Homo sapiens: one gene and its partners. The protein of the gene in region 1 purifies or fractionates together with the protein of each later gene. This does not show direct contact. Each region holds a gene or a part of one and is shown on either strand. Other genes may lie near its edges.

Region 1 (3,488 bases):
CCTACCCCATTCCCATATTCCAGATCCTGTGTATCGATGAGGCCACAGCAAGTGTGGACCAGAAGACAGACCAGCTGCTCCAGCAGACCATCTGCAAACGCTTTGCCAACAAGACAGTGCTGACCATTGCCCATAGGTATGTAAACGCCTGGTAACAGCCTAATCAGGGACTGTGGTAGCATGCACCGAGAGCCTCCGTTGCTTTCAGGGACCCCAGTGGTCAGGGCCTTAGAGATCCTGCCCCCCCAGATCTCAGCTCCTCCTTCTCCAGGGACGAGAAGGGTCCTTTATAGCACTGCCTAGGGCCCTTTATAGCACATTATCTGAGGGCCCTTTATAGCACTGCCTAGGGCCCTTTATAGCACATTATCTGAGGGACTCTGCAGTCCCTTCCCCAGCACCAAGCCAGGGGCTAAAGCCTGTGGGGACAGACCTGTGGTGTCCCGAGGGGAGAGGAGGGAAAGCAGGTCAGTGTTCTTACTTAGGGCATTGTCCCTCATCCCCTACACTGACCATCTTCCCCCTCACAGGCTCAACACGATCCTGAACTCAGACCGGGTGCTGGTGCTACAAGCGGGGAGAGTGGTAGAGCTGGACTCCCCGGCCACCCTGCGCAACCAGCCCCACTCCCTGTTCCAGCAGCTGCTGCAGAGCAGCCAGCAGGGAGTCCCTGCCTCACTCGGAGGTCCCTGAGCCCAATCCCACACCCTGCAGAGTTCTCCCCTCTCTCTGATCCAGGCCGGGCCTATACAGAGGTGCTGGCTGCTTGTTTACATTCTCCTCTGGGGCTCTACCTCTCCACACTTCCCCAGAAGGGAAAAGGGCACCCTGGATTACTCTTTGGAAATCACTCCTTGGTGGGCAGCATCCTGAGGCTTCCCCAGAACCAGGCCTCTGCTCTGGCCCTCTTGCATCTGGAACGCCAGGTGGGTTTTTCTGGCATAGGAGCCCACTTGCATTTTCATAGTTTTATTTGATAAAATTCCATCTTACATTCTGTGTATTAAAAAAATAATATTTCTGGTGTGAGGCTGAGGTCTCCTCTGTGTGTGTACCCAAGCTGAAGGGTGGTGAGAACGGACCACTCCAGTCTGAGGGGTGGAAGAGGTGAGGAAGGGGGCCAGAAAGCCCCCACCTCCATCACAGTGCTGTGGTCTTTCCAGGCTCAGGGGGCAAGTCACGTGGCAGGGGGAGCCCTGCTGGCAGCATGCTAACCTGACACTCCTGGTCCTGGCACGCTGGAGCATAGTGTGGGGCAGGGTAGCAACAGGGTCCAGGGGGGCAGACACCCCGGCGCCAGGCCCTCAGGGTCAGCAACACAGTAGCCAGAACCAGGGCAGCAGTGAGGGCCCCAAACACCACCAGGGCCACCAAGCTAGGCTCACCTAGCCCAGCCTCTTGCCTCCGCACCACCTCCTTCACTGAGATCCGCAGCAGACCAGCCCCTGCGCTGTGGGGGGCTGGCCCCGTGGCAGGTACCACTACAGCTGAGGTGGGCCCTAGAGGGGTGTCCACTGTGGTTGGGGGGTCTGGGACAGGTAAGACAAGCTCACAGGTCTTGCCACCATAGCCACTGGGGCAGAGGCAGTCGAAGTCGTGGACACGGTCCCGACAGCGGGCCCCTCTCTGGCATGGGCGGCTGGCACAGTCATCCAGGTTGATGGTGCAGAAGCGTCCAGCAAAGCCCTCAGGACAGAGGCAGGAGAAGCGGTTTATGCCGTCAAGGCAGGTGGCACCGTTAGCACAAGGCCGCATCAGGCAGTCATCCACATTTACCTCACAGCGGGCACCCACAAAGCCCACCAAGCAGCGGCACGTGAAGTTGAGAGCAAAGCCCTGGTCGTCCTGGCACTGCCCGCCATTGCGGCATGGGGAGCTGTGGTAGGGGTGAGAGAGGACATGATAACCAACTTACCAACACCTGTAGGGCAGCCCAGGTCAGTATCCTGACCACTGCCCGCCATGTCATCTTGGGCTACACACTCCGAGCCTCAAATACCTCATTTTAAAAATGAGAATAAAAATAGTACCCAGCTTCCCTAATTGTGAGGGTTGAGTGAAATAATCAATGTCAAGCCATTAGCACAGGGCCCAGCCAGAAGGCAGGGCTCAGGGTAAGTGTGCTATTATTATCCTCACAGGCTCCTGGGCCTGATGCAGAAATGAGGACAAGTCCAGCCCTGCAGGCTGTTTCCTCATCCCTACTGTGACACAGAAGGGTGCAAGCCAGCGTTCAGGAGAGGATGAGGAGAGACCCAGGCCCTTCAGTCTCCCCACACCCACCCTCCCCAACCAGAACAGTCACACGTTTGTTACCCCTCTAGCTCCTATAGATTGTTGAAGAAATGGCTCAGAAGGTACAAAAAAAAAAGTTGAGAAACCCTGAACTAGGAACACTTTGGCATGCAGGGGTTTTATCTGAGTGTCCCCGTGTGGGTCTGACTCTCAGTCCCCCACCCTCCCAACAGTCCTGCCTCTTTTCTCATCCCATCACCAGGTTCTGGTCTAACCTTCCACTCACCCTGAGGGCCCAGCACTCACCCTGCCTGTTCACAGGGTCCAGCCTTGCGCTCGCAGTCACGCCCATGGAAGCCTGGTAAGCACACACAATGGTACTCACCGCCCCCGTCATACATGCACTGGCCTCCATTCTGGCAGGGGGACTGCGTGGTACAGATATGTTCATCTGGAGAGGGGACAGGAAAGGCTCTGGGATAACCCCTCCCATCTGGTCCCCAGACCAGACTTGTCCACGCCTTCCAGGCCCCAGGTTCTGTAGGTGTGGCTATACTACAAACCCAGCCCAGGCTGGCGTGGTATGCTAGGGAGAGACAACAACACTGAATTTGGAGTCAGGAGGCTCCTGGCCCTGGCTCTCAGTCTGTCTCAAACTGACCTTGGGCTGGGTACTGTGGCTCATGCCTGTAATCCCAGCACTTTGGAAGACCAAGGTGGGCAGATGACTTGAGGTCAGGAGTTCAAGACCAGCCTGGCCAACATGGCAAAACCCCATCTCTACTAAAAATACAAACATTAGGCCGGTACAGTGGCTCATGCCTATAATTCCAGCACTTTGGGAGGCCAAGGCGGGTGGATCACTTGAGGTCAGGAGTTCGAGACCAGCCTGGCCAACATGGTGAAACCCTATCTCTACTAAAAATACAAAAATTAGCTGAAGTGGCGGGTGCCTGTAATTCCAGCTACTGGGGAGGCTGAGGCACGAGAATCACTTGAACCCAGGAGGCGGAGGTTACAGTGAGCCGAGATCGCACCACTGCACTCCAGCCTGGGTGACAGAGTGAGACTCCATCTCAAAACAAAACAAACAAAAAAACCTGACTTTGAGCAGGTTATAGCTCTTCTGTGGGCCTTAGTTTCCTCATCTGTAAAATGAGTACAATTTTTAGCAGCTGTGTTTCCTGCCCCATGGGGTTATGTTGAGGATCAATTCAGACAACATATAAAAAGTCTAAGATTTAAAAAAATGA
Region 2 (4,291 bases), on another chromosome or scaffold:
TTTTTAGTAGAGAGGGTTTCACCAGGTTGGCCAGGCTGGTCTCGAACTCCTGACCTAAGGTGATCCACCCGTCTCAGCCTCCCAAAGTGCTGGGATTACAGGCGTGAGCCACCGTGCCCGGCCTCCTTTTTTCTCTATTTCTTATTTTTTATGGAAGTATAATGGGCTTATCAAAAGTATACAAGTTGTGGCCGTGTACGGTGGTTCATGCCTGTAATACCAGCACTTTGGGAGGCTGAGGTGGGTGGATGACTTCAGATCAGGAGTTCGAGACCAGCCTGGCCAACATGGTGAAACCCCATCTCTACAAAAAAATACAAAAATTATCTGGGCGTAGTGGCACACACCTGTAATCCCAACTCCTCAGGAGGCTGAGGCAGGAGAATTGCTTGAACCTGGGAGGCGGAGGTTGCAGTGAGCCGACATCATGCCACTGCACTCCAGCCTGGGCAACAGAGCAATATTCCGTCTCAAAAAAAAAAGGTATAGAAATTTTAAGTGTTCTGTCTGATGAATGTTCACAAACTGAATGTACACATGTAATCAGCACTGAGATCAAGAAACAGTATATGACTGGCATCCCAGGAGCCCCCTCATGCCCCCTTCCAATCACTGTCACTCTCCAAGGGTTACACAATCCTAATTTCTAACACCATGGATTACTTTTGCCTATTTTTGAACATTTTGTACTGTATGTCTGGCTTCCTCACTTTACACAATTTGTTTTGTTTTGTTTTTTTGTGATGGAGTCTCGCTCTGTCACCCAGACTGGAGTGCAATGGCGTGATTTCAGCTCACTGCAACCTCCATCTCCTGGGTTCAAGCAATTCTCCTGCCTCAGCCTCCCGAGTAGCTGGGATTACAGGTGCACACCACCATGCCCAGCTAATTTTTGTATTTTTGTAGAGATGGGGTTTCACCATGTTGGCCGGGCTGGTCTTGAACTCCTGACCTCAAGTGATCTGCCCGCCTTGGCCTCCCAAAGTTCTGGGATTATAGGTGTAAGCCACTGCACCCGGCCAGACAATGTTTATGAGATTCATTAATATTATTGTGTGTAGTTGACGATGGTTCGATTCTCATTGCTATATAGAATTCCACTGTGTGAATATACTACTTTTTAAAAACATCCATTCTACTACTGGGGTGTTTGGGTAGTTCTGGAGTTTGTCTATTATGAGAATTATTGCTGTGAACATCCTTGTGCATGTCTTTCAGAGCACATTATCTCATGCACATTGCTGTTGGGTAGATGCCTGGGAGCAGGTTTTCTGGGCGTGCATATGTTCAGCTTGGGTAGCTGTTGCCAAACAGTTGTCCAAAGCGGTCATATGAGATTTCTAGTTGCTCTACTTTTTTACCAACACTTGGTATGTTTTATTTTTTTTCATTTTAGCCATTCTAGTGCATGTGTCATAGTAGCATATTGTGGTCTTAATTTGCATTTCCTCGCTGACTAATGAATATAAGCACTTTTTCACGTGTTTATTGGCTGTTTGGACAGCCTCTTTTATGAGATGCCTACTTAAGTCTTTTGTCCGTATTTGTATTCAGTTGTCTGACTTTCTTACTGACTTACAGGATTTCTTTACATGGTTTTTTTTTTTGGTTTTTTTTTTTTGAGATGGAGTCTTGCTCTGTCACCCAGGCTAGAATGCAGTGGCGCAATCTCGGCTCACTGCAATCTCCGCCTCCTGAGTTCAAGTGATTCTCCTGCCTCACCCTCCCAAGTAGCTGGGATTACTTACAGGCATGCGCCACCATGCCCGGCTAATTTTTGTATTTTTAGTATAGACGAGGTTTCACCAGTTTGGCCAGGCTGGTCTCGAACTCTTGACCTGAGGTCATCCACCTGCCTCGGCCTCCCAAAGTGCTGGAATTACAGGCTTAAGCCAAGGCGCCCAGCCCTTTACATATTCTTCATACAAGTCCTTTGTCTTTGTTTACAAGATGTAAACATCTTGTAATTATCCATTCCTGCTCTAAAGGTTACTTCTTCATTCTTTTTTTTTTTTTTTTTTTTTTTTTTTTTTTTGAGACAGTCTCTCTCTGTCACCCAGGCTGGAGTGCAGTGGCATGATTTCAGCTCACTGTAACCCCCACCTCCCTGGTTCAAGTGATTTTCATGCCTCAGCCTCTTGAGTAGCTGGGATTACAGGCGCCCACCACCACACCCAGCTAATTTTTGTATTTTTAGTAAAGATGGGATTTCACCATGTTGGCCAGGCTGGTATCGAACTCCCAACCTCAGGTGATCTGCCTGCCTTAGCCTCCCAAATTGCTGGGATTACAGGCTTGAGCCACCGCGCCCGGCCTCATTCTTTTTTTTAATCATCCAGCCCCAAAAAACTCTTCATTCTCTTAATGATTACCTTTAAATGAAAAAAAAATTTAATTTTGATATAATGCAGTTTATCAAATTGCTCTTTTATGATTAGCCCCTTTGTGTCTTTTGTTTGTTTGAGACAGGGTCTTGTTCTGTTGGAAAGGCTGGAGTACAGTGGCACAATCATGGCTCACTGCAGCCCCAAACTCCTGAGCTCAGGCAATCCTCCTGCCTCAGCCTCCTGAGAAGCTGGGACCACAGGCATGAGCAACCATGCCCAGCCACCTCCATATGAGTTTTGGAATGAGTTTGTCAATTTTCACAAAAACAACCTACTGGGATTTTTGACTAGGATTATGTTGAATCTGTGGATTAGGGAGAATAAATCCTTTCATAATATTCAGTCTTCCAATCCATGAATATGCTATATCTCTGCCTTTTTTTCTCTTAAATTTCTTTTGTGTGTGTGTATATATATATGTGTGTGTATATATATGTGTGTATATATATACATGTATATATGTCTATATATACACATATATCTATATACATACATATATACACGTATATACATATATATGTGTATATAGAGAGAGAGATATATAGATATATATCTCTATAGAGATATATGTGTGTGTGTGTGTGTGTATATATATATATATATATATTTTTTTTTTTTTTTTTTTTTTTTTTTTTTTTTTGAGGCAGAGTCTCGCTCTGTCTCCCAGGCTGGAGTGCAGTGGCCCAATCTCGGCTCACTGCAAGCTCTGCCTCCCGGGTTGACGCCATTCTCCTGCCTCAGCCTCCCGAGTAGCTGGGACTACAGGCGCCCGCCACCATGCCCGGCTGATTTTTTTGTATTTTTAGTAGAGACGGGGTTTCACTGTGTTAATCAGGATGGTCTCCTGACCTCATGATCCGCCTGCCTCGGCCTCCCAAAGTGCTGGGATTACAGGCGTGAGCCACCATGCCCAGCCTTAAATTTCTTATTATGAAAATTTCAAACACACAGAAAAAGCAGGAAGGATTATAGTACAACTAATTCCTGTACATTCACCATCTAGATTGAATAGTAGTTGATAGTGCATCTTATTTGCATATATATGTTTGTTCTTCTCAAACTATTTCATAGTAAATTATAGACATCATAGATACTTTACCTATAAATATTTCAACATATGTCTTAAAAATCTAAGGATAATCTCCTACATAATCACAATTCCATTATCATACCTAAGAAAATTCATTGTTCCTAATTTTTTTTTTTTTCGAGACAGAGTCTCCCACCGTCGCCCAGGCTGGAGTGCAGTGGCATGATCTCGGCTCACTGCAAGCTCCGCCTCCCGGGTTCAAGCGATTCTCCTGCCTCAGCCTCCCGAGTAGCTGGGACTACAGGCACACGCCACCACAACCGGTTAATTTTTTGTATTTTTAGTAGAGACGGGGTTTCACCGTGTTGGTCAGGATGGTCTCGATCTCCTGACCTCATGATCCGCCCGCCTCGGCCCCCCAAAGTGCTGGGGTTACAGATGTGAGCCACCACACCTGGCCAATTGTTCCCTAATTTTTGTTTGTTTTTAGAGACAGGGTCTTGCTCTGTCACCCTGGCTAGAGTGCAATGGAGTGATCCTGGCTCATGCTCACTGCAGCCTGGAACTCCTGGGCTCAAATGATCCTCCCACCTCAGCCTCCTTAGTAGCTGGGACTATAGTCACACGCCGTCATACCCGGCTAATTTTTGTCATTTTTTATAGAGATAGGGTCTTCCTATTTGCCCAGGCTCATCTTGAACTCCTGGGCTCAAGCAGTCCTCCCATCTTGGCCTCCCAAGGTGCTGGGACTACAGGCATGAGCCACTGCATTCGGCCTGTTTCGTAGTTTTTAATCTGTAGTCAGATTTCCACAGTTGCCCTCCAAATGTCTTTTGTTGCTGTGTTTTGTTTTGTTTTTCAAAATAAGATCCAT
Region 3 (4,291 bases), on another chromosome or scaffold:
TGAGCTTCCCTGGTAGACAGACTTTCACTGTGTTGTCACAGCTTGTTGCTGGGGGAGCTAAGTGTGTCCTGGGTGGCCCACTGGGAGAGGACTCTTGGAGCGTATGCCTTGTTCCCTCTCTACATTTCCCCTCATCTTCCCCTGTATCGACATTCAAGGAATATATATGGTGTGTATCCTGTGCTTTTTACAAAGCCTCAGTAAATATTGCTTACTACAGGGGTCAGCAAACTCTTTCTGTGCAGTGCCAGGTAGCAAACTTTTTTAAAGCTTTGCCGCTGGCTTTATGATCTGTGTTGCAACTTCTGAACTAAATAAACAGGCGTTGGCTATATTCCAAAAAAACTATTTACAAAACAGGCTGTGAATAGTTTTTGCCAATGCCTGGCCTAGATAGAGCCAAGGTATCTTATTTCAAGATGTACAACCTTAAGGGAATGAAAGACCTAGGTGGTTTTCTGAGTCAGGGGCTCATTTTTATGGCATTGAAAATAATCACTTTTTTTTTTTGAGACAGAGTTTTGCTCTTGTCTCCCAGACTAGAGTGCAATGGCACGATCTTGGCTCACTGCAACCTCCACCTCCCAGGTTCAAGTGATTCTCCTGCCTCAGCCTCCCAAGTAGCTGGGATTACAGGCATCTGCCACCACAACTGGCTAATTTTTGTATTTTTAGTAGAGATGGGGTTTTGCCATATTAGCCAGGCTGGTCTCGAACTCCTGACCTCAGGTGATCCACCCACCTCGGGCTCCCAATGTGCTGGGATTACAGGCGTGAGCCACCGCGCCTGTCCTCACATTTTGATTGAAAGTAATTTCTTCTTATAGAATGGTGTTTTTTTTTTTTTTAAGATTGTGACTGTCTTTAAGATAGTAACCTCAATTTTAAGTTAACATGGTATCTTTATGTTAAAAGTTGAATAATATTTTCTTTTTATTTGCTTTCTTTTGATTTAGCTAATGATATTTGCTTTCTTTTGATTTAGCTAATGATAACCTACTTTAAGTAGTAGAATTGATTGCCTTCACAGTGGTTTTAGTTTATTCAATTAAACATTTTAATACGAGTAATTTTTAAAACCTTTCCTGCCCTGCCCAGGAGAAAGTGTCACTTTCTGATGTCTCAACTTTTCTCATGTCTCTGAGACAAGAGGAATCCTTAGGACGAGGAACTTCATTGTGGACAGAGGTGAGATTAAAGATAATTTAATAAAGTCTTTGAAAACTATAAAAAATGGTTTTCTTAATGAATTTCTTAGTAGCCATTTATATAAAATATAATGATTGCTTTGTTATCTGTCAGCAGAGACTTTGAAATATTGTATATTTGCTTTGAGTGGACTTAACTAATTCTGCTAAGATGCTTATGGAGAGGTGGGAGAGAGGAAAATGTTTGCAGTACAGATAGACCTATTTAGAAGAAAAGATATTGCTAGTGGGCAGATCTCAACTCTGGATGAGATGCATTAGGAATAATGGCGATGTTAGACTCAAACACAGTAAGTGACACAAACTCCTCTTTCTCTTTTTTCTGTCATTGAATGGCCCCTTCCTCCACCCAGTTGTCCAGTCCTTATGTTTTGGTAATTCTGAGTTTGTCCTGACTTTCTGCATCCAATTCATCATGAAACCCTCCTGTCTCATAAACATCTTTCCTCTTCTCCATGCCGCTCTGTGGCTCTAGCTCAGACCCTCCTCATGTGAAGCTTCTTCCCTTGTGATGATGTCTTGTTGATGTCACGTCCCTGGCCTCCAGACCTCTTACTGTGCCACCCTTTTCCTCAGGACTCTTCAGGGCCAGCCTCCTCCCTCTTTTTGTAAACCACGGGGTTTAGTTTATACAACTGACTTCAGTGCTTATTTGTTATTTATGTGGCTGAGTTCTGATCTTTGTCCCCTCTGGGTTATATAGTTTTTGAGAAATGAAGAAGGGGCAAATTGTGGCCTTTAAAAAATAGAATTTTGTTTTATTTTCTTGATCACAATGCATCTAATTTTGTGGAATTTGAAAAATATAGAACCATATAAAGAAAATAAAAATAATCTGTAATGCCTACCGTCAAACTAAATTCATATTTTTTGGTTTAGTTTTTAGTTCTTTTTCCCTATGAATATACGTATTCTCTTACTTGCCTTCTCATTATAGATAAGTATATGTGTATTTAAAATAATACATATGATCTCTCTAAATATAGATTAAACTGTTTTAAATTTTATTTTTTTGTATTCACATATATATGAGCATTTTAGCATGTTGCTAAGTAATTTTTCAAGATGTAGTAAAAATGCAGTTGATTGTATCATTTAAAATTTATTGTATTAGTTCCTTTTCTTGGACTTTGTTTCAAAGTTTTTGCTTTTATAAATAACACTGGGCTGGGCACAGTGGCACTTTGGGAGGCTGAGGCGGGCAGATCACTTGAGGCCAGGAGTTCGAGACCAGCCTGGCCAGCATGGCGAAACCCCGTCTCTACTAAAAGTACAAAAATTATCGGGGCATGGTGGTGTGTGCCTGTAGTCTCAGCTACTTGGGAGGCTGAGACAGGAGAATTGCTTGAATCCGGGAGGCGGAGGTTGCAGTGAGCTGAGATCGTGCCACTGCACTCCAGCGTGCACGACAGAGTGAGACCCTGTCTCAAAAAGTAAATAACATTGGGAGGAACTTATTTCTATATGTTTTTATTTATACCTGTTTTTTAGGATAAATTCATAAAATTGAATTTGCTGTATTTCAATAATTTTAAGGTTCCTGATACAGATTGAGAGAGGTTTCAAAGTATGACAGTGGACATCCACTTTATCTACAGTGATACAATACCAAATGTATCAGCATGTTAAATTCTTTGCCACTTTGGTAGATAAAACATAGCATTTGGTGACTTTATTTGCATTACTCTGATCACTGTTTTTTAAAACATTTTTTCATGTCTTTGTAGTATTTCTTTTGTGAATTGTCTATTATTGTCCTTTCCCCATTTTGTTTTGGGATTTTAGTGGTTTTTTTTTCTTTTTTACTTGATTTGTAAGTGCTCTTTTTATATTGAGGGTATTGACAAGTTGTTATACCTACTGCAAATAATTTTTTTTTAGTTCCTTTTTAAAAAATTTAGCTTTGCTTGCTGAATGGGTAATGAATTTACGTGATTTGAAGATTAAAACTATTGGTCAGAAGTGTCTTATTTCTGTTTTGCTCTTCTATCTTGCCTTGATCCTTATCGTACTCCACCCCATCCCCAAACAAAGGTGTTTTTGATATAGACTCTGCTTACTACCTTGCAAGTTTTCATTAAAATGTATATTCATAGTGATTTCTTTATCTCAGTAGGCAAAGACCCTTCTTAGTCTTTTTTTGTAAAGTAAAGCTTGCATAGTATTTTGTAAAGTAAAGCTTGCATAGTATTCCATCTGGTGGTTGTACCATTGTTTATTCAATTTCCCCCATTGCCGAACTGTTGAGTTGTCCAGTCTTGTGGCTTTTACAGACAATGCCACAATAAATGAATAGTCTGCAGGTACATCTGCAGAATGGAGTCCTAGAATTGGGATTGCTGGTCAGAGGTTGGGTGCCTGTGTAATCTTTCTGGGGATTGCCCAGTTTCCCTCCATAGTTTCCTATGGTTGCTGTAATAAATTACCACCAGATTGGTGGCTTAAAATAACATACATTTATTCCCTTACAGTTCTGGAGGCCAGAAGTCTGGAATCCGTTTCACTCGTCTGCAATTAAGATTCTGGCTGGCTTGTGCTTCCTTGTAGGGGCGAGTCCACTTCCTCATCTTCTGGAGCTGTATTGCTTGCATTTCTCGGCTCATGGTCCTTTCTCCATCTTCAAAACCAGCAGCCTGGCATTTCGAGATCTCTGCTTCGTCTTCATATCACATTCTTCTCTTCTGTTTCTGTGGCCAAATCTGCCTCTGCCTTCCTTTTATGAGGACACTTAGGATTACATTGGGCCCCCTCAAATAATCCAGCATAATGTCCCCATCTGAGAATACTTAAATCTGCAAAGCTCCTTTTGCTGCATAAGGTAACATTCACAGGTTCCGGGATTAGGACCTCGGTATCTTTGGGCCTACCATAGGGTTGCAGGAGTTTCACAGGGTATGATAGTGCCTGTTGTGAAGCAGGATTTTTTACCAGTCTGAAGGATGGGAAAGGGCATTTCAGTATAATTTTAATTAATCATTCTCTTATAATTTGTAAGTTCAGGCATCTTTTCAGTTTCATTTTGATTTTTGATTTTGTTTAGTTTTTTCCTGGTAGCTTTTTACTTATGAAAATTTTAAAAATTC
Region 4 (4,291 bases), on another chromosome or scaffold:
ATGTGGAATTTTGTTGTTGAAGCAGGGTCTCTGTCACCCAGGCTGGAGTACAGCGACGGGGTCATAGCTCACTGCAGCTTCAACCTCCTGGACTCAAGCGATCCTCCCACTTCATCCTCCCAAAATGCTGGGATTACAGGCTAGGATTACAGGCGTGAGCCACCATGCCAGCCCCCATGTGGAATTTTTTTTTTTTTTTTTTTTTTTGAGTTGGAGTTTCACTCTTGTCGCCCAGGCTGGAGTGCAATGGCACAATCTCAGCTCACTGCAACCTCCACCTCCCGGGTTCAAGTGATTCTCCTGTCTCAGCCTCCCGAATAGCTGGGATTACAGGCACCCGCCACTACGCCAGGCTAATTTTTGTATTTTTAGTAGAGACCGAGTTTCACCATGTTGGCCAGGCTGGTCTTGAACTTCTGACTTCAGGTGATCCACCCACCTCGGCCTCCCAAAGTGCTGGGATTACAGACGTGAACCACGTGGAATTTTTAAACCTTGCTCTTTGTTTTATGGAAGTGAGTTCATGTTGTGCCCCCTCTGCATGTTGCTTTCTTTCCTCATATTTTGCGGGAATCCCTCCAGCCCTTTGCTGCAGCTTTACAGCAGCTGGTTCCCAGTGAACTGGGAGTTTTAAATGTGTCCCTCTGGTCAATCTGTTCATTAAATAGGTGGACTTTAGAAAGGAGTTCCCGATTGCTCTTACTGGAATGCAAGGGATGGAGCAGAGAACCCTGAGGCTGCACTGGGGATCTGTCTAATCTCACTGTGCTCAGTCTTCCTGTGTATTAAATGGGGAGCCTGCCTGCCTCCCCCAGGGTGGTTTCCCAGCCAAGTGGCCACATGCTTTCTGCAGAAGGGCTGATAAGTGGGCTGCCCCGTGGAGTAGGCAGGCTTTGGCTCCCAGCTAGATTTGAGGTGGAATTTTGGACAATGGAAGAATTTTCATTGTCTTCTTCCCCTGACCCCTGGTCCTAGGAAAGCCAGGCCACCCTGTGCTAACCCCCCTCCTATGGCTCCCTTTTAGGTTGAACCATGATTCCGGTGACAGAGCTCCGCTACTTTGCGGACACGCAGCCAGCATACCGGATCCTGAAGCCGTGGTGGGATGTGTTCACAGACTACATCTCTATCGTCATGCTGATGATTGCCGTCTTCGGGGGGACGCTGCAGGTCACCCAAGACAAGATGATCTGCCTGCCTTGTAAGTGGGTCACCAAGGACTCCTGCAATGATTCGTTCCGGGGCTGGGCAGCCCCTGGCCCGGAGCCCACCTACCCCAACTCCACCATTCTGCCGACCCCTGACACGGGCCCCACAGGCATCAAGTATGACCTGGACCGGCACCAGTACAACTACGTGGACGCTGTGTGCTATGAGAACCGACTGCACTGGTTTGCCAAGTACTTCCCCTACCTGGTGCTTCTGCACACGCTCATCTTCCTGGCCTGCAGCAACTTCTGGTTCAAATTCCCGCGCACCAGCTCGAAGCTGGAGCACTTTGTGTCTATCCTGCTGAAGTGCTTCGACTCGCCCTGGACCACGAGGGCCCTGTCGGAGACAGTGGTGGAGGAGAGCGACCCCAAGCCGGCCTTCAGCAAGATGAATGGGTCCATGGACAAAAAGTCATCGACCGTCAGTGAGGACGTGGAGGCCACCGTGCCCATGCTGCAGCGGACCAAGTCACGGATCGAGCAGGGTATCGTGGACCGCTCAGAGACGGGCGTGCTGGACAAGAAGGAGGGGGAGCAAGCCAAGGCGCTGTTTGAGAAGGTGAAGAAGTTCCGGACCCATGTGGAGGAGGGGGACATTGTGTACCGCCTCTACATGCGGCAGACCATCATCAAGGTGATCAAGTTCATCCTCATCATCTGCTACACCGTCTACTACGTGCACAACATCAAGTTCGACGTGGACTGCACCGTGGACATTGAGAGCCTGACGGGCTACCGCACCTACCGCTGTGCCCACCCCCTGGCCACACTCTTCAAGATCCTGGCGTCCTTCTACATCAGCCTAGTCATCTTCTACGGCCTCATCTGCATGTATACACTGTGGTGGATGCTACGGCGCTCCCTCAAGAAGTACTCGTTTGAGTCGATCCGTGAGGAGAGCAGCTACAGCGACATCCCCGACGTCAAGAACGACTTCGCCTTCATGCTGCACCTCATTGACCAATACGACCCGCTCTACTCCAAGCGCTTCGCCGTCTTCCTGTCGGAGGTGAGTGAGAACAAGCTGCGGCAGCTGAACCTCAACAACGAGTGGACGCTGGACAAGCTCCGGCAGCGGCTCACCAAGAACGCGCAGGACAAGCTGGAGCTGCACCTGTTCATGCTCAGTGGCATCCCTGACACTGTGTTTGACCTGGTGGAGCTGGAGGTCCTCAAGCTGGAGCTGATCCCCGACGTGACCATCCCGCCCAGCATTGCCCAGCTCACGGGCCTCAAGGAGCTGTGGCTCTACCACACAGCGGCCAAGATTGAAGCGCCCGCGCTGGCCTTCCTGCGTGAGAACCTGCGGGCGCTGCACATCAAGTTCACCGACATCAAGGAGATCCCGCTGTGGATCTATAGCCTGAAGACACTGGAGGAGCTGCACCTGACGGGCAACCTGAGCGCGGAGAACAACCGCTACATCGTCATCGACGGGCTGCGGGAGCTCAAACGCCTCAAGGTGCTGCGGCTCAAGAGCAACCTAAGCAAGCTGCCACAGGTGGTCACAGATGTGGGCGTGCACCTGCAGAAGCTGTCCATCAACAATGAGGGCACCAAGCTCATCGTCCTCAACAGCCTCAAGAAGATGGCGAACCTGACTGAGCTGGAGCTGATCCGCTGTGACCTGGAGCGCATCCCCCACTCCATCTTCAGCCTCCACAACCTGCAGGAGATTGACCTCAAGGACAACAACCTCAAGACCATCGAGGAGATCATCAGCTTCCAGCACCTGCACCGCCTCACCTGCCTTAAGCTGTGGTACAACCACATCGCCTACATCCCCATCCAGATCGGCAACCTCACCAACCTGGAGCGCCTCTACCTGAACCGCAACAAGATCGAGAAGATCCCCACCCAGCTCTTCTACTGCCGCAAGCTGCGCTACCTGGACCTCAGCCACAACAACCTGACCTTCCTCCCTGCCGACATCGGCCTCCTGCAGAACCTCCAGAACCTAGCCATCACGGCCAACCGGGTGAGTGGCCCGGCCACAGCTCTGCGTGTGGGCTGGCGGGTGGCCTGGCCAGGGCTTGTGGTGGGGCACTCGGCAGGCTCAGTGTCCTGGGACCGTCGATGCCCCTGAGTGTGGAGTCCTCACCTGGGGTTTACAGAACCATCCAGGATAGAAGCTCTGTTCAAGAGACAGACTCCTTGGGCCCCATCCCAGGCCTGCTGAATCCGAATCTCTGGGCCCCGGGCCTGTCTTTGCTCCAAAATGTTGCAGTTCTCCTGCCTGGAGAGACTGCATGGCCAGGCAAGGTCTGTCCCCCAAGGTGACCTTGAGCCGGGTTCCTCTTCAGCAGGGATGTGCTTGGGCAGGAGGTCCAAACCCGGGGGTTCTCTCGCAAAGCCGGGTGGTGGGAGTCAAGACTTAGCCTGGAGTTTGTGTCTTCCTCAGCTTGTTCCCAGTCGGACTTGGAGGCAAGGAGCCAATCCGGGTCCACCCAGGACAGAAACTGTGTGGGTGGCCAGTGCTGGCTGAGGGGAAGCCTTGGATGGTCTCTGCAGCTCCCACACACCTTTCTCCACTGCATTTGGTGGTGTCAGAGGCAGAGTTGGGCCTAGATGGGGCTAGTTTGTTTCTGCCTGCCCTTCTGAAAAGGAAATTGTGCAAATCATTGTCACTGGGAGTTTGGGAGGCCACACCTTCGACATACTTTCAAGACTGTTGGTGGTCTGTGGGTGCCAGTCTCTTACCTGGCTGGGGAAGCCCCCATCCAAGGGCCCCTTGGTGGAGGCAGGCAGTGTGGATGGAGGGCTGGGTACTCCTGTGGCTCTGTGGTCTGGCCTCCGAAATGGAAACAAAGCCACTGCCATTGTGGGGAACGTCCCTCTTCCACCCGTCCTGGGGACCTGCAGGTTTTCCTGGGCCTCACATCCAGGTGGAGATTCCTGTAGTGAGACATGTGGTGGAGGAAGCCTGAGGCCAGGCGCTGGGAGACAAGGGAGAGCCCAGCCAGCCACCCTTCTGCCCCCGACACAGCAGCAGCTGTCGTGCCGGGCCCCTGTGAACTTCACTAGGGATGCCACCAGGTTCAGGAGGCTGAAGAAGAGACTCGGAGTTGACCAGGCCCAGT
Region 5 (4,291 bases), on another chromosome or scaffold:
ATCTTTCATTGTTGTTCTGACATCTTTCATTACAAAATTTATTTTCTTAACAAAAAGGAACATAACCCAGCATTCCAAGTGTCTGTGTTGGCTTTAACATTCTCTACATGGTGGTCTAGATAAGCTAATTTTTTTTTTTTTTTTTTTGTAAAATGTAATAGCTAGAAAATGTTATCTTGGCGCTTGTTTTTGTAAATCATTTAGTATAGGCTGTTAGCTTTACTGGTACTTTACGCTTTGATTCCAAGAAGCCTTGTGCAGTTGCCTTATCAAATGGCCAGCTAAATTAAAGATGCTCTTTTGTGTTGTGAATTTCATAGTTCTGTACAGAGCTTGTTTCAATTTACAAAAATAAGTACATTCCACAGAATGCCTAAAGTGTGTAATTTTCTTTAAATAATAGTAGGTGAGGGAGAAACATAATGGCTCTAGGTCAATCCCTTATCTAAAGACCTTGTTCAACTTCATAGTCCCTTTCCTTTTAAAGAGGAGAAGAGAAAAATCCCCCCTGGCCAGGCATGGTGGCTCACATCTGTAATCCCAGCACTTTGGGAGGCTGAGGTGGGTGGATCACCTAAGGTCAGGAGTTTGAGACCAGCCTGGCCAACATGGTGAAACCCTATCTCTACTGCAAAATACAAAAATTAGCCGGGCTTGGTGGCGGGTGCCTGTAATCCCAGCTACTCGGGAGGTTGAGGCAGGAGAATCACTTGAACCCAGGAGGCAGAGGTTGCAGTGGGCCAAGATTACGGCATTACATTCCATCCAGCCTGGGCGACAAGAGCAAAATTCCGTCTCGAAAAATCACCAGGTACATACCTCTCAAGTTTGATAAGTCCATCTTTTGAGTTTTCTTTTAGCTCTTTCAAAAGATTACGAGGGCAATACATATTTTTTTTTTTTTTATTCTCCAGCCCCATATCATACTTGGGTATGCCTGTTGGTACCATAAGCCTAAACTCTCCTTCACTGCAATGCCTTTGAGTCAGTAGCAATAGTAAAGACTAGAAACAAAGAAAATTCAGAATTTGGTATGTGATATGATTGTTCATACAATATGTTATAATAGCAATATTCCAAACAATATGTCCTTCACTGTCTATTGTTGGAAAACTCATGCATCCCAGCATGAAGTAACTCCTAGTTTTAATTTTAGTTATTTTGAGATATATTTGAGAATTGCATCTCTTCTCTTGAATTTCACTTAGAAGAGATTAACCAGCCAAATATCCAGGAAAGTTTCAAAACATTCTAGTGTTTTTCATCCTTTGCTAGGATGCACTCTGTACAAAACATTCCTCTGAAAATCTAATATTTGCAGTATCTAAGAATTGATCATTTCTATTTTCATTAAATTCTGTGGAAAAAATTAAATGAATGAAATTCAACTTCATAATTCAGTTCATCAGCTTTTGTATCTTGAGAATCTAAACACGTCTTTAAATCTGAAAGAAACCAAGCTGGATTTTGCAGTGCATATGTTTGCTAGCTTCCCACATCCTGAACCATGTCAAAATTTGGTTTTATTTAGTTACATATAATTTAATGCAAAGAAATTCTGTTACTTAATGTTCTGTTTATTTATGAGTGCCTATCAGGAACACTAATAGGAATGCCATTCAACCAGTGTCTTCTGCCCCTCTCCCAGCTGTTAAATTAGTACTTCTTCATTGGCTTTCTGAAATGTCCTGAGTAAAGTAGAAAAGCAACCTTTGTATGGATGTGGGGATATTTAATAGTATGTATCTTGTTTCATTTTTTTCCTATGATGTATTAATATTTATTTTTCTCCAACCCCTGCTCCATTTTCTTAAAATATTTTCCAGTTAATAACTAGTTGCTTTATTTCCTAGCTGAAGTGAGAAAACCAACGGAAAACAATACAGATTTGGGCAGAGGAGATAGAGTTACATCTTTAAAGGAGTGAGCCAGTCACCCAGGAGAATCACATGTGTAACTGATGTAGGGGTTTAAGTCTTCATACTTTCACTAAAATCTGTCTACTAACTCTCCCACCAACCTTTGCATCAAACACTTAGGTACCTGCCTGATTAGGGGGGCCCCTTTAAGGGAAAAAACTTTTAAAAAATTAAATGCCTTGGTTTTGTTTTATCTTCTGGGAAAGAACACTTTTACTTGATTAGCAAGATGATTATATTATATAACTTGCCCTTAAAAACACTCCAAAATACTGACTCCTTTTCTCCAATTACAAATGAGTGTGAAGAAATTCTGTTGTATGATTTGAACACTATTAGGTTTGTATGTGTGTTTAATTGGAAGAATTTTATATAGAGTATCTCTGCTGCTTTTGTTTACCTGGGTACCACACAACCAAATACACATTGAGATTTCAAGAAATGATGATGAAAGCCAGAAGGCCAGACCACAGCTCTGCAGCCTGTTTCCTACAACCAGATATAAAACTCTTTCTCGTCGCCATGCTGATAGTCACACTGAACTAGAACTGTCCCAACACATTCTTCCTCTCTCATAATGGCTTCCATTTAATACAGGCAAAGCCCTTTACCTTAGCAAATTCTTTATCTTTCAAAAGTGACCAAAATGAGGACTTCAACCTTGGCTGCACCTCAATAGGAGATGCTGATCTTGAGTTGTAATGAGAAAAGTGGGCATATAGGAGATTTTAGTGACTGCAGTCAGCTGTCTGGCATTCCTTTCTCAGTTTGCATCTAAAAGACTACATATGTCAAGCTTATCTCCACCTGAATTTGCTGCCTGCTATAAAAACATTTCATTAATATATCCCATTCTTCCTACCTCCATCTCTGGTTTGTCATTAGTGGTATTCTGAAAAGCTTAAGAAAAAAGAATCATTGAGTAGAAAGTGAACATTTTAAGTTATTTTCCTTTTTCATTGGCAATTAGTTAACATGTAAAATCTTTTCCATTAAACTGTATAACTTTTAATAACTATATATTATATATGGGATAAAATATATGGACTGAATTGTGAGAATATAAATGCATCGAAAGACTCTGGTGTCATGAAAGCACAAGAATAAGGCTGGAGATGGTCCCAGATCCAAGATGTCCCAAAAGCCTTTTGTATCAGTTTCTCTATTTTTGGTATTTTGCATAATGCATGGATCCTTAGTTCAAATGAGGGACAAAGTTTCTCAGTCAGCCCCACTTCCTTTCTTTCTAACTCCTACCTTTCCCTTGCAGAGGAGGTAGTAGAGATTCTGGAATTGTCTATTTTTATGAATTCCATTATTTTGTCCATGGCATCTCTAATGAAAACAGGTTCTAGAATAAAGGAGTTGATTAGTCTGAACAGTACTAATTAACTACAAAATAAACGTTAGTGATCAGCCTCTTCCTCTATAAACAATGACCAATTAGACGTTTCCGTAATTCCATGTATTATGTATAGTACACTCTATAAATGTAAATGTAATGCTTGTCTAAAAAGTGCAATTTATTGTACATTGTCCCAACAAATGTTTACTTTTATAATCGTTATGAACTTGAATTGGATTAGTATCTTGTTTTTATGTGTGAATGAAGCCTTGTGAAATAAACAAATGCAACTGAGAAGGTAACAAGGTGACTGTTTTTGTGAGCCAGTGATGTTTTCAATGCTTTGTGTTGCCCCTTTGGCCCCATTAAGCAGTAATAAACATTTGTTCTGAAGTCCATGTATGTCTTTTTTATTTTTTTAGTTGACTTTATTCTGACTCATTTGAACCCAATGTTTATGTAACACTTCTTACACCTGACCCCAGACTCCAGTCAACGTAGAAAACACACAGTATATACCCTGCAAAATGATACCCTGTGCAGCACCACCACAAAGTGCTTCATTTTCCTCTCTACTGAGGTTCCTTGATTCCACGTAACAGAAACCCTTGCAAGCTAGCTTAATAATAGTAATTTTAAGAGGCAATTAATTAAAAGGAAATAGGATATCTGTATCATAGGTCCCAAAGGCCAAACACTTGGGCCTGAACTGGCACTAGGACAAGGGGCTGGAATGCCATCAGGACTCTGAAAGCAACTGTTCCCAAAATTGTGCTTCTGCTTGTCCTTCCAGATGACTTACCTGCTTCATTCTTCTCTCTGAAAACAGGCTTTCTCTGCTTCTAAGTACACAGCTACCAAGTTTACATATCCTCTCTTCAAACTACCAGCAGAAGACTACCATCTCAATTGTTCCAATTACAAATTCTGGAAAAAATATGACTGGCTAATCCTGGGTCAGGTAGCTGCTGTTAGTCCTTTAAGGTACAGCAAGGTAGGAGATACTATAAAATTCAAACTAAACTTC
Region 6 (3,500 bases), on another chromosome or scaffold:
CAATCACCACCAAAAAGGCTGAGAAGATGGGAAAAGATGTGATTTACCTAAGGTTATGCACCAAATACAAAATTTTGAACAGGAGCAGAAATTCAGGTTTTTAACTCATTATTCTGTTAACTGTAAGTTTGCATAAGTGGCAACTACTATATTACTAAAACGTGCAGCTTTTTATTCCTCTCAGAAATCTCATAGATGTCGTTCATCCTGTAATTGCTCTGATTATGTCCTCAATCCAGGAGAAATGACTTTATGCCACAATGAATACGCAATAAAAAAAGAAAAACTGTGCTGACTTAAGTTACCCAGAACACCTGCCTATTTACAGTTAAGTTTATCAAATTCTGATAAGTGTATGCTAAATTTCTTCATAAAATCATTTTAAAGGAACTTTTATTTCCTGTGGAAGTTTCCGATGTGAAAGAAGACAAGCAGGTGATAGGAGAACATTGTATGGATTAAATAGTTTCTACATTAACAACTGCTTATTTTAAAATTTCAAATATCCTTTCTGGGGGTTGGGGAGAGGGCGTTATTTCACAAAACTATAAATGTGATTTGGTTGAACCTGTTTTTTTGGCGTAGCTGAGAATCCTTTGCCCAAACTTGTGCCCTCACTAAAGGAGGCATATGTTCTTGTTTAGAAACAAAGTAGTACTGATTAGACTATACTTCCTGGTCCTCACCTACTAAGTAAATCTTCAAGTCAAACCTCCTTTACTTAAACATATGACAAGACTAGCCATGCCCCAAATCATAACAAATATATCAAAAATTACCAACTATACTTTATAACTTTGGCATATCAGCTAGACCTTAAAGACATACAATCTAAGTTTTCAGTGGTACAGGTTTAACATAAGCGTAACAGATATCCTTTTCCTGTTACATTAAAACATTTTTGAAAGTACCTTTTCTACTTTATTCTATAATTTTTTTTTTTTTTTTTTGAGGCAGAGTCTCACTCTGTCACCCAGGCTGGAGTGCAGTGGCATGATCTTGGTTCACAGCAAACTCTGCATCCCGGGTTCAATTGATTATCCTGCCTCAGCCTCCTGAGTAGCTGGGACTACAGACGTGTGCCACCATGCCTGGCTAATTTTTGTATTTTTAGTAGAGACAGGGTTTCACAATGTTGGCCAGGCTGGTCTTGAACTCCTGACCTCAGGTGATCCGCCTGCCTTGGCCTCCCAAAGTGCTGTGATTACAGGCGTGAGCCACCACGCCCGGCCCTATGAAAGACTTTTAATCAAAATGGTCATTTACAAATAGAATGGAATTAAACACACAAATTTATCTCCTCCCCTCACATTTAGCTCTGCAACTTACAAGTTTTCTCCTTTGTATTTTAAAACAATTTGTAATAAAAATGTATAAGAAGTTCCCCTCTTACAAAAAAGGAGAAAAGCAAATGGAGTTATCAGGCAATGTTTAGGGAGTAAAGAGACACGCTGAAGCTACAGCTCACAGCAACTGATAAAGACAGGTCCTCTCTGCAATCTGGAAGATGCCTATGAATGCAGGGACCTGAGATCAGATAAAAAGCAATCTCCCATCCCTGTCCACATAGTCTAAGCACAGTCCTGGCATCAATTAAGCTAAAGACAATTGCAGACACAAAGGATAGTTCATTACTTGCCTGAAGTATATTTATTTTGGCTTATTACTTGCTTTGAAAGTTCTGTGTAAATTCTTCCTTAAAGGTGACTGTTAGTTAACTTTAAAAGTCTGGAGTTGGGTGAGTGAATAGGAATAGGACTATATGACTGAGCTTCCTTTCAACATGGTATTCTGATATGCTACTATTCAAGGGTCCTAGTAGTTAAAAAAACAAACAAAAAAATGATTATAAATCTGAAAGTCTGAGGAAGACTAGATTTCTGTACCTTTGTTTCACATCAGATCACTTTGTAAAACGACAGAGGAAAAAAAGAGAAATTATATCATCTTATATTTGCAAATATTTTCATGTTATCTCATTTAATAAAAAAATCAGTTTGCAGATGCACAAATTGAAGAAGCACCAGAGATTAATGTCAAATTTAGAAATACTTTTGTTAGAGAGGAATTAGAGCCAGAGGAAAAAGGAACATGTACTTTGCAAATTAGTGATAGTTAAGATAAAACTAGTTCTTTAGAACTTCTGAGATTGTCAGAATGTCTTCCCAACCCATCCCAAGAACCCCAAGTAACACTTTGCAATTTGCTATTTGTGTTGAAGTCAGAAGACTGGTAATTCACAAAATTACATAAACATATGTAAAATCTAACAGTGAGGTGATGAGACTTTCTTCCCAACTTTCTGCAATGACCATCCCACTTAAATATCAACTAATGTAATGTTTAGCAGAAGAACATGGACAACGAGATTGGTACCAGAAAAACAAGTTTATTTTAGCTAACTTTTAAAGAAAATAAATAGCTTATTCACTCATTCACATGCTTGATATGCAGAGTAAGCACTTAGAATGAAACTTGAAAATTCCATCAAGAGAAAAGTATCAATGAACTGGTGAATCTCGGATTGCTTCTTGAGTATCAAAAGACAACATGCAAAAATAAAGATAATTCCACACCTCCTCCTTTTTAAAAGTTTTGCCAGTACTGCAGTTCTTCACAGCTGTTCATAGTAAACGCTTGGTTAATTCAAATCTGTTCCCCTAATACTCCTTGAAACAAACAGAATTACCGGTCTATTATTACTGAACTAATTAATATTCTCTGGGTTTTTATCTTTTTTTAAGAGCATTTAGAAAAAACTTTTATAAACTGCGTATTTATCTCCTGTTGACTATCAACTTATTCAAGGTTTCTCAAACATTCCACACTATCTTAAGTCCACACTACAAGGCAGACCCCAAAACTGGGCTCTATCTCTTCCTAGGCAATTCTGTTTGGTGATCATGTATGCTCTTCAAGCCAAAATTCCTGTTTTCACTGCAATTTATGAGAAAGAAATGATCCTCCTGTTTGCTAAGTGGATCTTCTCTAACTACCTTCACCTCATCACCTGTTCCTTTCATTTTCCTTTTCTTTTTTTTTTTGAGACGGAGTTTCGCTCTTGTTGCCCAGGCTGGAGTGCAGTGTCACGATCTCAGCTCACTGCAACCTCCGCCTCCCAGGTTCAAGTGATTCTCCTGCCTCAGCCTCCCGAGTAGCTCGGATTACAGGCACCCGCCACCATGCCTGGCTAATTTTTTGTATTTTTAGTAGAGATGGGGTTTCATCATGTTGGCCAGGCCGGTCTCAAACTCCTGACCTCAGGTGATCCACCCGCCTTGGCCTCCCAAAGTGCTGGGATAACAGGCTGAGCCAATGCGCCCAGCCCCTTTCATTTTCATTCTATCTACACAGGCTCCCTCTTTTCAGTACATAAGTAAGTTCGGAGGTTCCTTCTCCTAAAAATTACCTCATCAGTGAGGAAAGGAGGGATTGGGGCAGAAGGGCCTGAATCTTTAACCTCTTGCAATTTGAGTATTGTCTCTGCTGCTTCATTTAAA
Region 7 (4,291 bases), on another chromosome or scaffold:
CCAGGAGTTTGAGGCTACAGTTAGCTCTGGTTGTACCACTGAGCTCTAACCTGGGTGGCAGAGTACAACTGTCTTAAAAAAAAAAAAAAGCCAGCCAAAAATGTCAATGGTGCCAGAGTTAAGAAACTGAACCAGAGCAACCACAGTCCCGAAAGTACCCTTGTCCCTGCCCAAATGCATGTCCTGACCTGAACTCTGGAAATTCAGTAACTCTACCCCCAACCCTCCTGGCCATTCCTCTTCCCTAAGAGTTAGGGACAGAAAACTGCCAGCCATGGGCAGGAGGAGGTGGTCAGCAGAGTGGCCTAGGAGAGACTCTCTGTTCCATGGGGAGCTCCTGGAAGGCTGCGGCAGAAGGGACAGTTGACCAGGGCAAGCAGCCAGCAAGGGCAGGCTGAGCCATGAGGGATCGGCCCATTTCCCAGCCCCCAGGCAGCCAGCCCTTAACTGCTTCTTTGTGACAGCCCGCCTCAGTGAGACAAGGGGCTCATATAACTCCCATAGCCTGGGAAAGCTTTTTAAATGTAAGCCTATGAGTGAGACTCTATGTGACAGTTTTTGTTTATCTCCAAATCCGGCCCTGATGAATCACTGTCATCTACATTTCAGCATGCTAAGAAACCTAATCCATATAAAACACCCCATGCTTCTGGGGCCCATACTAGTAGACATGACTAAGTGCAAAAATGCCAGTGTTTCACCCTGTGCTGCAGGAGGCAAGAGCCAGGCAGGAGCACAGTGCCACCTGCTTAGAGCAGGGAACCCTAGAAAGGTGGGGGCCCATCAGGGAAGATGGATTAGTGTCTTGAGCCCCTTTTATTTCCATGGTTTACAATAGAGAAAGGTGGGAGAGGCTTTCTGGACTGGGCAGGTAATCTGAAGACAGCTTTCCTGCCAACTCCATACTGGGTTCATCATGAAGATCAAGCACAGGGCCAAGGTAAAGGAATCTTCACACTGTTAAGAGAACAAGGTCAAGTTCCACTCTAAGGACAGGAGTGATCACTGGTGAGCACACATCAATGAATTCAATGTAATTCTCCATAGAGGAGAGTTCCCCGCCAGGCCCAGCCTATCCCAGACCCATTCAGGGGGGTTTGCATATGGAAGTACCAAGACATCCCTCCTCCTTAAAAACACCTCACCCATAAGGCAGTCTAGAGGCAAGGCCACAAGATTACAATGGTGGAACCAGAACTCTCAACAGTAACAGTGAATCAAGACTTACTCAGAGGGAAAAGGGATTGTTCCCATCATGGAAGTGGGGCTAGGCCTCCTTCTATCCAAGTGGCACATTTGCAGGGGTGACAATCAGCATGTTCACTATGGCACAGGCACAGAAGTGGGTCCAAGAGGCCCCTCAAGTGTCAGGATTCAACCCTTTGATTGCTGAACATGGGAAAGAGATCCCAAGGAAAGACCAGGGCAGCTAGGAACCGGAGGGCACTCAGGGGGTCTCAAGGCAGAGCATATTTAACAACCAGCATGGAAGTGCCCCACTGTTACATGTGAGTGGCATGGCTAAGCCAGTGTGTTTCCATCTGGATATCCACTGACTTGTACGGCTCAGCATCACCCATGCAGAGCTTCCAGAAGAGGCTTCACAAGGACAAAAGCACAAAAACCAACAGGGAGCATAGACTTGGCCAGGTTTGTGTGTTTTCTCATCACGTGAATTCTGCTGGGCACTCCAGGAGACTTCACAGGCTTTTCCCAGGAATACCTAGCTTCCCTTCCTGGGATCTCAGCCAGAGCCTCACAGTCGACTCCTGCTTACACCTGTGTCTCTGTCCCAGGCAGCCTCACCGCACCCCCCGCCACCCCCGCCCCACCACACCTGCTTTCACTAAGCCCACTGCCTCTGGACTTGCTAGAAGTTAGGCAGGACAGTGGCCTTGCCTGCTTTGACACTAAAATCAGTATCTTCCCAAACTGACTTCCCTCTCCCCAAAGCCCTAAGAAACATGAGCAGTAGCAAGAAGAAATTATGTCTTCCCCAACCCAATCTCCCCCACCCCCTCTCCCATCATTTTTCTGACCACCTCTTCCTCTGTTCCAAACAGGAGACCAACCACTCACCCATCATTCATCCAAACAGGAGCTAGGGTGGGGAAACTGACAGCGGGTCTGAAGACTCATAAAACCTTCACCAGCCTCCCAGGTGTCCCCCACCCCAAGGTCCAACAGAGCCTGGGCAAGCTGACCCCACTCAGTGCTGGGTAAAGCAGTTGCTTTTTCATTTTTGCTCAAGGGTCTAGGGAAGAGCTCGTTACTTTTGCACTGTTCAGCAGTCACACAATCTGTTTCCATTATGTTTGCTGACCCAGAGGCAGCCACAGCTTCACTCCAGAATTGGGAAACTTTATTTTCTTTAAAGAGAGAAGTTTATGTTACAGTGCCACTGTCGGATTATCTGGCTATACAGTGGTTTTCCCTGCTACTGTCCTCCCTGTGTCAACTTCAAACTCTCATTTGAAGTGGACTTTCTTTAAACTCCAAACTGATGATAGGTGGCAAGGAGTGGTATGGGTGTTCCCCTCCGCATCCACCAAGATGCTCACAGATTTTTGGCACCCATTAAACCACGTGAGGGCCCCATGCTCCACCTCAAGTCATGCATGCTTCCAGGGATCACAGCGACCTGCCCTTCTAACAAGAGGGGCAGGGCTACAGAGGGAGAGCAGTGGAGCTCAGAACCTGGGATCCCACCACAGGAACCCCTCGTTCAGGGACACGTCTGTCCACTGTTGGACACTACAACTGCCTAACCGCCAAGGCAAGCTGCACCCTCCACCCACATTCCCGATGGCTGCCCACTACTGGGATCCCCATTCTGACACCACAATTGGGTACAAGAGAGCTGGCATGGTGTCTGGACAACTTCCCAAAAAGTCCGTCTCTAACAGCATTTAAGATTCATAGCCCAAACCCCAAATGAACCAGTCAGATCAATCTCAGAGGTGGGGGTAACGGATAAAAAAAAGAAAGACGACTATTTTCCAGAAATCAAGAATTGTATCAGGAATACCGTGAACTTAAGATTCCTGGTTCACTACACTTTCAAGGGGATATTTAGGCTTTTATTTTTTCATTTTCCTCTTTTAGAGATAGCAGTTATTCAGCACCCACTAACAGTATTTAACTCTCCGAACAAGGCCATGAGGTAAGAATGATTACTCCCACTGCAAAGATGAGGAAACTGAGGGTCAGAGAGGTTCAATGCATCAGTGAAGGTCACTAAGCACAAAGAGGTAAACAGCTAGGTCTCACTCAATGCCAATAAGTGGATTTGTGCCATTTCCCTTTAATGTCTACTACTAGCTCAAAAACATTACTAGTTCCCAAATGGTTCAGCTTGGCATTTGAAGCCCGTTACAATTTAGTTCTGAATTTCTCCAACTTTACACCCTAACGTTCCCCTCCATGTGTACCATGGTCTAGCCCGGCAAGGTCCTTCACTGTTCCAAGAAATAACCTGCCCGCCTCCCCGCATGATTCCTAGAAGATCCCACCCAAAGTCCCCCACCCTTGGACTCTCGGGCAAGGGCCACAGGACTCGTGCCAGCTCAGGGAATAAGGGTGATGCTACTGTGCAAAGTGGACAGGCTCCCAGGGCTCCGGATCATGTCCCTCAACTAACACCGTCCCTTACCTCCCAGCATGCAGGCACACAGGCAAGGGGTCTCAGGCTCCACACACTCTTACAGCAGAGAGAAAACCCTTCCCTTTCCACCCTAAACAGCCACACTTCACCCACAGGCAGCTTCATTTCCAGAGAAATCCCTTCCTCTCTTCTGCGGCTCCATCCACTGCCAACGTACCAAAGCCCAGGGGAGACTTAACATGGTTAAAATTTTAAAGCATTTAAGAAGCTCAAAGGAAAGGCACGCTTGAAGTGCAAATCATCAATTTAGGGGGAAAGAGCAAAATATGGGGGGAAAGGGTATGGACACAAATGTAAATGAAACATAATTTTAAACAATATTTTGAATAAACTGCTTTAACATACATGTCCTGAGCCTGGGTGTTGAGTCCCGAGTTGTGCGGCAGTGCCTGAGATTGGTCTTCAGCACTCCCTCCTGCTTAGTTTACTAAACCTGCAATCTGAGGTGAGCTGGCTCTCTGGGTTTTGCCAAGTGGAGAATAACAGTTCTGTGATGAGTTACTTAACAGGCAGGGCACACAATGACAAGCCTGGGCTGGGCTGCTGAAGCAGCAGAAATCCTAGTTGGACTCCCCTCAGACGATCCCTAAAGCCCAATACTGCAGCCTAGTACCCTATGAAAAACGT

Evidence for each region.
Region 2: the proteins of DLK2 (region 1) and ZDHHC18 purify together in Homo sapiens (affinity purification with mass spectrometry; 2 studies listed by BioGRID and IntAct, with this or other methods). This does not show direct contact.
Region 3: the proteins of DLK2 (region 1) and TARBP1 purify together in Homo sapiens (affinity purification with mass spectrometry; 2 studies listed by BioGRID and IntAct, with this or other methods). This does not show direct contact.
Region 4: the proteins of DLK2 (region 1) and LRRC8A purify together in Homo sapiens (affinity purification with mass spectrometry; 2 studies listed by BioGRID and IntAct, with this or other methods). This does not show direct contact.
Region 5: the proteins of DLK2 (region 1) and RABGAP1L purify together in Homo sapiens (affinity purification with mass spectrometry; 2 studies listed by BioGRID and IntAct, with this or other methods). This does not show direct contact.
Region 6: the proteins of DLK2 (region 1) and EIF2AK3 purify together in Homo sapiens (affinity purification with mass spectrometry; 2 studies listed by BioGRID and IntAct, with this or other methods). This does not show direct contact.
Region 7: the proteins of DLK2 (region 1) and GALNT2 purify together in Homo sapiens (affinity purification with mass spectrometry; one large-scale study listed by BioGRID and IntAct). This does not show direct contact.

What each region holds. Positions count from the first base shown.
Region 1 is NC_000006.12:43,449,399-43,452,886, forward strand, and holds the end of DLK2 (protein delta homolog 2 isoform a precursor), read right to left. Parts: intron 2,687-3,488; coding exon 2,542-2,686; exon of another isoform or gene 2,498-2,541; intron 1,877-2,497; coding exon 1,141-1,876; 3' UTR 954-1,140; downstream 1-953. Other genes in the region: ABCC10 (ATP-binding cassette sub-family C member 10), read left to right, coding at 24-136, 531-693. UniProt on the Homo sapiens protein: Regulates adipogenesis.
Region 2 is NC_000001.11:26,843,318-26,847,608, forward strand, and holds part of ZDHHC18 (palmitoyltransferase ZDHHC18), read left to right. Parts: intron 1-4,291. UniProt on the Homo sapiens protein: Palmitoyltransferase that catalyzes the addition of palmitate onto various protein substrates, such as CGAS, HRAS and LCK. Acts as a negative regulator of the cGAS-STING pathway be mediating palmitoylation and inactivation of CGAS.
Region 3 is NC_000001.11:234,454,564-234,458,854, reverse strand, and holds part of TARBP1 (tRNA (guanosine(18)-2'-O)-methyltransferase TARBP1), read left to right. Parts: intron 1-1,098; coding exon 1,099-1,188; intron 1,189-4,291.
Region 4 is NC_000009.12:128,906,133-128,910,423, forward strand, and holds part of LRRC8A (volume-regulated anion channel subunit LRRC8A), read left to right. Parts: intron 1-1,024; 5' UTR 1,025-1,032; coding exon 1,033-3,189; exon of another isoform or gene 3,190-3,808; intron 3,809-3,911; exon of another isoform or gene 3,912-4,291. UniProt on the Homo sapiens protein: Essential component of the volume-regulated anion channel (VRAC, also named VSOAC channel), an anion channel required to maintain a constant cell volume in response to extracellular or intracellular osmotic changes.
Region 5 is NC_000001.11:174,991,647-174,995,937, forward strand, and holds the end of RABGAP1L (rab GTPase-activating protein 1-like), read left to right. Parts: 3' UTR 1-3,662; downstream 3,663-4,291. UniProt on the Homo sapiens protein: GTP-hydrolysis activating protein (GAP) for small GTPase RAB22A, converting active RAB22A-GTP to the inactive form RAB22A-GDP. Plays a role in endocytosis and intracellular protein transport.
Region 6 is NC_000002.12:88,620,965-88,624,464, forward strand, and holds part of EIF2AK3 (eukaryotic translation initiation factor 2-alpha kinase 3 isoform 1 precursor), read right to left. Parts: intron 1-3,500. UniProt on the Homo sapiens protein: Metabolic-stress sensing protein kinase that phosphorylates the alpha subunit of eukaryotic translation initiation factor 2 (EIF2S1/eIF-2-alpha) in response to various stress, such as unfolded protein response (UPR).
Region 7 is NC_000001.11:230,069,897-230,074,187, reverse strand, and holds part of GALNT2 (polypeptide N-acetylgalactosaminyltransferase 2 precursor), read right to left. Parts: intron 1-4,291. UniProt on the Homo sapiens protein: Catalyzes the initial reaction in O-linked oligosaccharide biosynthesis, the transfer of an N-acetyl-D-galactosamine residue to a serine or threonine residue on the protein receptor.